2 separate regions of the Homo sapiens genome follow, and region 2 is linked to region 1. The links come from fine-mapping of genetic effects on gene expression. A gene starts in region 1. The other region holds a variant in brackets. All regions are shown on one strand. Distances are between the middles of the regions. Region 1 holds the start of SMKR1 (small lysine rich protein 1). Region 2 has its middle 33 kb from the start of SMKR1.

Evidence for each region. PIP is the estimated chance that this variant, and not a neighbour inherited with it, causes the effect. A credible set is the group of variants that fine-mapping cannot tell apart.
Region 2: its variant is the best candidate, but not a certain one, in a credible set for the expression of SMKR1 in whole blood (INTERVAL, PIP 0.72).

The regions. Positions count from the first base shown.
Region 1 is chr7:129,500,388-129,504,771 of GRCh38, reverse strand. It overlaps SMKR1 (small lysine rich protein 1), which reads right to left and starts at 2,241. Exons shown (of 2, transcript NM_001195243.2): 1 at 1,945-2,241. The coding sequence starts at 1,947. RefSeq lists silencers at 2,093-2,432, 2,493-2,542.
Region 2 is chr7:129,533,811-129,538,194 of GRCh38, reverse strand. No RefSeq gene overlaps it. Among named protein-coding and RNA genes, the nearest start is that of SMKR1, 33 kb to the right of the region's middle. RefSeq lists enhancers at 3,316-3,833, 3,834-4,351. The variant TTTG/G (reference allele first, on the strand shown) is at 2,335.

The DNA.
Region 1 (4,384 bases):
GACCAGTCTGGGAAAGATGGCAAAATCCGGTCTCTACAAAAATTTAAAAAATTAGCTGGGCTCAGTGGCACACACCTGTAGTCCCCAGTACTCAGGCTGCTGAGGTGGGAGGACCCCTTGAGCCCAGGAATTCAAGGCCAAAGTGAGCTATGTATGATGCCATCGCACTCCAGCCTGGGCAACAAAGCAAAACCCTATCTCTAAAAAAAAAAAAACAAAAACAAAGAAATTAATAAAGAAAGACCCTATAATGCCTATAACACATGGAATTATAATAGCACAAGATGGGCAAGGGCTGACCTCATCTGGGCCATCAAAGGAAGGGCTCCCTAAGCGTGGCCTGTGGGCCGAGAGTAGGGAATTCCAAGACCAACAGCCTATGCAAAGTCTCTGAAGCCGGAGAGAAGGTGCACAAAGAGACGGAAACCCAAAAAAGGCCAACATGGCCAGCCCACAGGCAGCCAAGGGGGCCAGTGAGAGCAGCTAAGGAAGGAAAGGTAGGCAAGGTTCCGCTCTGGCTTGCAGGCTCTGTGCACTAATGTGTTTGACCCTCATTCAAGGAGCATGAATTAACTGGCATTTGCTTCAATGGCTATGTACAGCATTCTGCCTCAGTTCCCTGGGCCCTGAAAGAAATGGCAGTTGGCTGGGCACAGTGGCTCACACCTGTAATCCCAGCAATTTGAGAGGCCAAGGCGGGCGGATCCCTTGAGCCCAGGCGTTTGAGACCAGCCTGGGCAACATGGCGAAACCCTGTCTCTACTAAAAATACAGAGATTAGCCAGGCATGGTGATGCCTGCCTACGGTCCGAGCTACTTGGGAGGCTGAGGCGGGAGGATCACTTGAGCCTCAGAGATGGAGGCTGCAGTCAGCTGTGATCACACCACTGTACTCCAGCCTGTGTGACAAAGTAAGACCCTGTCAAAAAAAAAAAAAAAAAAGGTAATAGCTCTTTACCTTTAATAGCTCATGGAATGACTCTCAAACCAAGAAATTTTTACTTAATCCTTTTACACGAAACAAACTGGAAAGAACACAGAAACTTAATGATTTCTACACTAGAGTCTAATGAGGAATAAGGCTTTCCAAGGAAAAACAGGCAAAGCACCAGAGGTGAGGTGCAAAGGGCTGTGGGCGCTGAAGGAGCGATGGGGAAGCAGGAGGCAGGGTCCTTCTGATCCAAGCCTCAAAGAAAACGGATCAAGACAGGGAAGGCGCAAGGGGCTTCCAGAAGAACGCGGGTTTAGTGTGGGATGCAGGGTTTTTGTTCGTTTTGTTTGTTGTTGTTTAGCAGAGAAGATATGGCAGAGAAAGCTCGAGGTTGAGGCCCCTTTAGCAAGGGCTCTGTGCGCCCAGCTCAAGCGTGCAGTACTTAGTTTAGCAGACAATGATGCCTCCCTGAGGACTTGGGGCAGGGGCTGGAAGGTCACAGCCCTTCTGGAAAGAGCAGCGAGGGTTGGAAGGAGGTCGTAAGTGACTGGATGAGGGCTGAGAACAGGAATGCTGTTGACAGCAAGGTGGTGGTACCAGGCTCACTCTCTGCTTCCTGAGTCTGCAGAGCAGTGGAGAATCCCGCGCGGGCACCCAGGGTGGCTACGGCAGCTAACAGCTCGGACCCGTCACTGTGGGCATGGCCTGGCGCCCTGACGTGCCACACCACGGTGCCACCCTCCCTTTATTTTCCACATCAACCGTCTGGGTGTGGGGGCTGCTCAACAGGACCACGACCTAAAACCTGGAAAGACGGCTGGCCTGACTCCGCGGCTGCTGCGCCCCCAGCAGGCGCGGACCGCCGGGCACCCCTTGTCCCTCCATCTTTTCGCCACGCGTTGAGGTCGACCCCAGGGAGAGGCGGTGACCTCGGCGCCCGCGCCTCTCCGGGACAGCCTGGGGCTCCACGGCGCGCGCCCTGGCCCCGGGTACTTTAGGGAGACGGGGATTACCATGGCGATTCTCAGCCGAGCAGGCAGGCGTGGTGGACTCTCCCGATCCCGAAGCCCTTAGCATCCACCGGGGCCGCTGCCCCCAGCGCCCGTTCCCCTAGCACCCCCGGCCCCTTCTCGGCCCTCCTCAGGGAACCGCCACGGGCCCAGCCTCACTACGCCTCCCCGCCACGCCTCGCTGGGAGGAGCGCGGCCGGCTCGGGAGGCAGCCAGCCGCGGAGCCGCCTGGACGCGAGGCACCTGCTTGCCCCACGCGGCACCTAGGCCGCCGCAGCTGTGGGCGCTGGGCCGGCGTGCGCCTCGGGGGCGGGGCCGCGCGCACAATCACCGGGCGTGGGGCAGGGCCTCGCCGTGGTTACCGTTGCCAGGGCAAAGCGGCAGCGCGCGGAGGGTGAGCGGAGCGGGGTTCCGGGCTTGCGCGCGCGGGATGGGCCGTCACCTAGTACGAGGCCGACCGCGGCCTCCAGCGCCCGGAAACCCAGTTCGGCGCTTTAGCGTCTGGGTTTGGGCTGCCGGAGCGGCGGGCGCGGGGCGAGGGGGCGGGCGCGGGGCGAGGGGGCGGGCGCGGGGCGAGGGGGCGGGCGCGGGCGGCGCTCCCACTGGGGTGGCACTGGGGTGAGAGCGCAGGCTAGGCCCGCTCACTCGGCCAACCTGGGAGAGATCATCGGAGAAGCTCTTTTGGGAAACGAGCATAAGGACTGTGACGGTGAAGGGAGAATATCATGGGAAATGTTTGCAAAAGAGCCGGATAAAGAGAGTAAGGGCCCGAGAGACTAAAGGGGTGGGGAGGGAGTTCATGTGCAGGTAGGATTGGGCGAGAAAGGTACAGTAGGTACAGTTTTGCCTCCAACCTTGCCAGTTCCAGCCTCCCTCCCTGCAGGTGAAGTCTACACTTCGGGTGGTACGACTCATTCTTTTTTATGACTGGTCATTCCTTTTTTTTTTTTTTGAGACCGAGTCTCTCTCTGTCGCCCAGGTTGGAGTGCAGTGGCGCCATCTCGGTTCACTGCAACCTCCGCCTCCCAAGTTTAAACCATTCTCCTGCCTCAGCCTCTTGAGTAGCTGGGATTACAGATGCGTACCACTATGCCCGGCTAATTTTTGTATTTTTAGTAGAGATGGGGTTTCGCCATGTTGGTCACGCTGGTCTCGAACTTCTGACCTCAGGTGATCTGCCCGCCTCAGCCTCCCAAAGTGCTGGGATTACAGACGTGAGCCACTGCCCGGCCTATCATTCCTTTTTATTCAACAGTTATTGAGCATCTGCCACGTGCCTGACACTCTTCCAGGCCCTGGAAATTGAGCTCTGAATGAGGCAAAGTCCTTGTTCTTTTAAGGGGTGATTTGGGGGAGGTGGTCGTGGCTGAAATGGAGGGCCTGGCAGACATTAAAAGTGATAGGGACAGTATGGCATATTGCATTAAATTGATGTGACCACTGGGTGCTCTTTTAGATTGGTGACTGGGGAAGGCCTCTCTGAGGAGGTGACGTTAAAACAGATCTGGATGACAAGGAGCAGTCAATTATGCCAAAATTAGGGACAGGGGGAGGAGGCTAGACCAAGAAGCAGGAGTAGGGTCCTGGAAGGCTCTGCAAGGATGTGGTGTTTTGTTTGCTTTCTCTTGAAAGACAAACTGGCTTCCAAAGAGGACTGTTTATGTTCTAGGTTCTCTTACATATGCTTTCCCTAATCCTTCATTAACAGAGCAAACCCAACTTCCAGCTACTTTTAATATGTCTGTGAGTTTTTCTTATGAGTCCATATGCCCTGGATATGGCAAATTCTCCTGCCCTCCACCTGCACTTTCTTCTCTTCTTGCGCCTGTCTTCATCCCTGGATGGGGCTGGCCCACCCCAGCCGCTTACACTTCTCTGGGTTATCTCAGCTCTCCCAAGGTTACCCCTATGGGATCACTCCCAAATCTGTTCCAGCCCTGCTTTTCCTGAGCTCCAGATCAGAGATCCAGAGCCCTGCTACAAGGTTGTTTTGTTTTCTTTCTTTTCTTTTCTTTTCTTTTTCTTTTCTTTTCTTTTTTTTTTTTTTTTGAGATGGAGTCTTGCTCTGTTGCCCAGGCTGGAGTGCAATGGCACGATCACTGCTCACTGCAACCTCTGCCCCTTGGGTTCAAGCAATTCTCCTGCCTCAGCCTCCCAAGTAGCTGGGATTACAAAGCATGCGCTATCACGCCCGGCTAATTTTTGTATTTTTAGTAGAGACAGGGGCCAGGCTGGTCTTGAACTCCTGACCTCAGGTGATCCGCCTGCCTCGGCCTCCCACTGGGATTACAGGCGTGAGCCACTGCTCTGGCCTCCTGCTACAAGTTTTAAAACTCAGCTGTCTTGAAAGTAGATCAGTGGTCGAGGTGTGCCATGGGTGGGGGAGGATTGACTCTGCGGTGGGCTAAGAGGAAAATTCCTGAGTGATGGAAATACTCTCTAT
Region 2 (4,384 bases), 33 kb before region 1:
TCCTGGCCTCAAGTGATCTGCCCACCTTGGCCTGCCAAAGTGCTGGGATTACAGGCGAGAGCCACCATGTCTGGCCCTTAATTTTTATTTTTTTATTTTTAGTCGAGATGGGGTTTCGCCATGTTAGCCAGACTGGTCTTGAACTCCTGGCCTCAACTGATCCACCCGCCTCAGCCTCCCAAAGTACTGGGATTTCAGGGGTGAGCCACTGTGCCCGGCCAGAAGTGACTGCCTTAAGGAGACATTTCAGAGAAGAACAGGCAGATACGGGGGCAATGTCAAATCACCCCAAACAGGTGAAAATGAACACCATTAACTGGGAGGGCTGGCTGGGCTAGGCAGTCATCACGAAGGACTGGAAGGGGGCTCTGAGGGCCTAGGACACAGAGCTCACCCCGGAGTGTGAGGTTTTTCCGGTGCCACATGCAGAAGGCTGGCATCCCTCAGCTGGTCCACAGATCTGCTGTAGCCCTAATACTGAAATTAGGCATATACAGTAAACATAACAACAAAGACAACATTTTTAGCTCTGTTAGGCCCAGGATGAGAAATAAATTCACAACCTCAAAGGAAAATGGAAATGTCACATCCTTTTCAAGTTCCTGGTAGTACCTGTACATTCCAAACTGGAGAACAGACTATTCATTTACTTTGAAAATGGACTTTTTTTTTTTTTTTTTTTTTTTCCTGAGATGGAGTCTTGCTCTGTCGCCCAGGCTGGAGTGCAGTGGCTTGACCTTGGCTCACTGCAACCTCCACCTCCCAGGTTCAAGCGATTCTCCTGCCTCAGCCTCCCGAGTAGCTGGAATTACAGGCGCCCGCTACCACGCCTGACTAATTTTTATATTTTAGAGACGGGGTTTCGCCATATTGGCCAGGATGGTCTTGATCTCCTGACCTCATGATCCGACTGTCTTGGCGTCCCAAAGTGCTGGGATTACAGGTATGAGCCACTGTGCCCGGCAGAGAATGGGCCTTTTAAATTTTTTTTATATTTTTATTTACATTTTTGAGACAAAGTCTCACTCTGTTGCCCAAACTGGGGTGCAGTGGTGTGATCTCTGCTCACTGCAACCTCCACCTCCCGGGTTCAAGCGATTCTCCTGCCTCAGCCTCCTGAGTAGCTGGGACTACAGGCGTGTGCCACCATGCCCGGCTAATTTTTTTATTTTTAGTAGAGACGGGGTTTCACTATGTTGGCCAGGCTGGTCTTGAACTCCTGACCTCAGGTGATCCACTGCCTCGGCCTCCCAAAGTGCTGGAATTACAGGCGTGAGCCACCGCACCTGGCCTGAATGGACCTTTTTAAATGTAAGATTGTTTCTCCTAGTCTTCTTGTATTTACAAATTCCATGAAGACTAAAATTTAGAGTTCATCTCCGCAAATACTCCTCAATCCCACCTCCTCTCAACACAAAGATCTCTCTATATAATTCCTGATAAGAGAGCAACCTTTCGCTGAAGAGATTTCACAGAATTCTGTAGCCAACACTCTTTGTCATCCCATGTCCCAGCCAGCACTGTGACTGTGGAACCACCCAGACCTTAGACCCCAGGGTACCCCCGTACCCCTGTTTTCTAAAATGCCTGACTCATCCTGCCCAGGCTTTCATGAAGAAAGCGAAGTGAAAGCCTCCCACACGCCTTTAAAAATGTCTCCTCTAAATTCCAGTTGTCGTAGTAACATCTTCACGCTGCCTTGGTGCCTTTATATATTTTGGTGCTGATGGACCCTCCGTTACCATGAGAACAGAAGTAGATTTAAACAAAGAGAATTTTGTGGCACTTATCTTAATGTCTTATGGAAAACAAAACCCATGCCCACGGCGACCGCCTCAGAAGAGTTCAGAGGGTTTAACAATGGAATGGCAAGAAGTCCTGAGTTCCTGGGACCTAGAACGCCACTGGAGTTCCATTTCATTTGTTCTTCGAATTTTATTTTGAGGAAAATGTGCATCGTTGTTGTTTTTAAGATTCTGTTGCACCATTGCCATTCTGAAGTGAGCAGATCTGTTGTAAACGCATATTCTTACCTTCAGCTTTGAGGACAAACTTATCACTCCTACCACAAAATTGTAACCATTTCCTGAGCTGTGCTTCACTCTACCCCCACACCCCAGCCCCACAGCCCCTTGTGACAGGGCAGTGCCAGCTGAACTGATGTTCCCTGCTATTTCAGACTCAAGGTCTGTGCATCTATTCTTTCTTTCAAAGCTAAATGTTTGAAAAATGGAAGGTCTTTGAGCTCAAGGACATTAACGCACACTTCTTCAGCACTCTCTGCATAGTCCTAATTGTCAGTTTGTTCGACTTTTTTTTTTTTTTTTTTTTTTT[TTTG/G]AGACGTTGTTTTGCTCTTGTTGCCCAGGCTGGAGTCCAATGGCACAATCTCGGCTCACTGCAACATTCACCTCCCGGGTTCAAGCAATTCTCCTGCTTCAGCCTCCCAAGTAGCTGGAATTTCAGGCATCTGCCCCCACAACCGGCTAATTTTTGTATTTTTAGTAGAGATGGGGTTTCACCATGTTGACCAGGCTGGTCTCAAACTCCTGACCTCGGGTGATCCACCTGCCTCAGCCTCCCAAAGTGCTGGGATTACAGGTGTGAGCCACCATGCCTGGCTTTGACTTTAAACTTTCCATTCTGATGTACAGAATTAAGTTTCTGTTGAGAATTTTAAATAGTTAACTTCACAGGATTTGTATGTGGGAACAAACTTGAAGGTAGGAAGAAAGCAAACCCACAGTCTGAATAGCAGGCTGTGTCAGTGACACATTCCTTAATTAGTCCTTGAGAACACTAACATGTATTGTGTATTTACCACATGCTAGGCACTATGCTAACCACATAGCCTGTTGTCTTCATCTGTTTTCTGTAGCTATAACAAAATCCATATACTGGATAATTTATAAAGATAAGAAACTATTTCTTACAGTTTTGGAGGCTGGGAGTCTGAGTGCATGGCGCCGGCATGTTTCAAGGGCCTTCTTGCTGCTTTGTAACACTGTGAAGGGCATCGCATGGTGAAAGGGCAAGAGACTGTGTCAAGTTAGGTCTCTCTTCCTTGTTTTTTTTTTTTTTTTTTTTTTTTTGAGACGGAACTTGCTCTGTTGCCCAGACTGGAGTGCAATGGTGCAATCTCGGCTCACTGCAACCCTCCGCCTCCCAGATTCAAGCAATTCTTCTGCCTCAGCCTCCTGAGTAGCTGGGACTACAGGCCCGCGCCATCATGCCTAATTTTTGTATTTTTTTTTTTTTTAGTAGAGACAGGGTTTCACCATATTGGCCAGGCTGGTCTCGAACTCCTGACACTGTGATCCGCCCGCCTTGGCCCCCCGAAGTGCTGGGATTACAAGTGTGAGCCACCGCGCCTGGCCAGAGGAGGGAGATTTCATTCCCAGGCCTCTTCTCTTGGCTTGTAGGTGGCCGCCATTTTGCTGTGTTCACGTGACCCCTTCTTCGTGTGTACACGTGGAGAGAGAGGGCAAGCTCTCTGGTGCCTGTTCTTAAAGGGACTGTGAGGCCTCTGAGCCCAAGCTAAGCCATCATATCCCCTGTGACCTGCACGTATACATCCAGATGGCCTGAAGTAACTGAAGAATCATAGAAGAAGTGAAAATGGCCTGTTCTTGGCCAGGCGTGGTGGCTCATGCCTGTACTCCTAGCACTTTGGGAGGCCGAGGCGGGCAGATCACAAGGTCAGGAGATCGAGACCATCCTGGTTAACACAGTGAAGTGAAACCCTGCCTCTACTAAAAATACAAAAAAACTAGCCGGGCGTGGTGGCGGGTGTCTGCAGTTCCAGCTACTCAGAAGGCTGAGGCAGGAGAATGGTGTGAACCCGGGATGCGGAGCTTGTAGTGAGCCAAGGTTGCGCCACTGCACTCCAGCCTGGGCGACAGAGCGAGACTCCGTCTGGGGGTGGGCGGGGGAGAAAGGCCTGTTCCTGCCTTAACTGATGACATTCCACCACAAAAGAAGTGAAAATGGCCAGTCCCTGCCTTAACTGATGACATTACCTTGTGAAATTCCTTCTCCTGGCTCATCGTGGCTCAAAAGCTCCCCCACTGAGCCCTTGTGACCCCTGCCCCTGCCTGCCAGAGAACAACCCCCTTTGACTGTAATTTTCCACTACCCACCCAAATCTTACAAAACGGCCCCCACCCCTATCTCCCTTCACTGACTCTCCTTTTTCGGACTCAGCCCGCCTGCACCCAGGTGAAATAAACAGCCTTGTTGCTCACACAAAGCCTGTTTGGTGGTCTCTTTACGCAAGTGAAAGGGACACTAATCCCATCATGGGGATTCCACACTTGCGTTAGGGTTCTTCAGGGAGACAGAACCAATAAGATACATGTATATACGAAAGGGAGTTTATTAGGGAGAA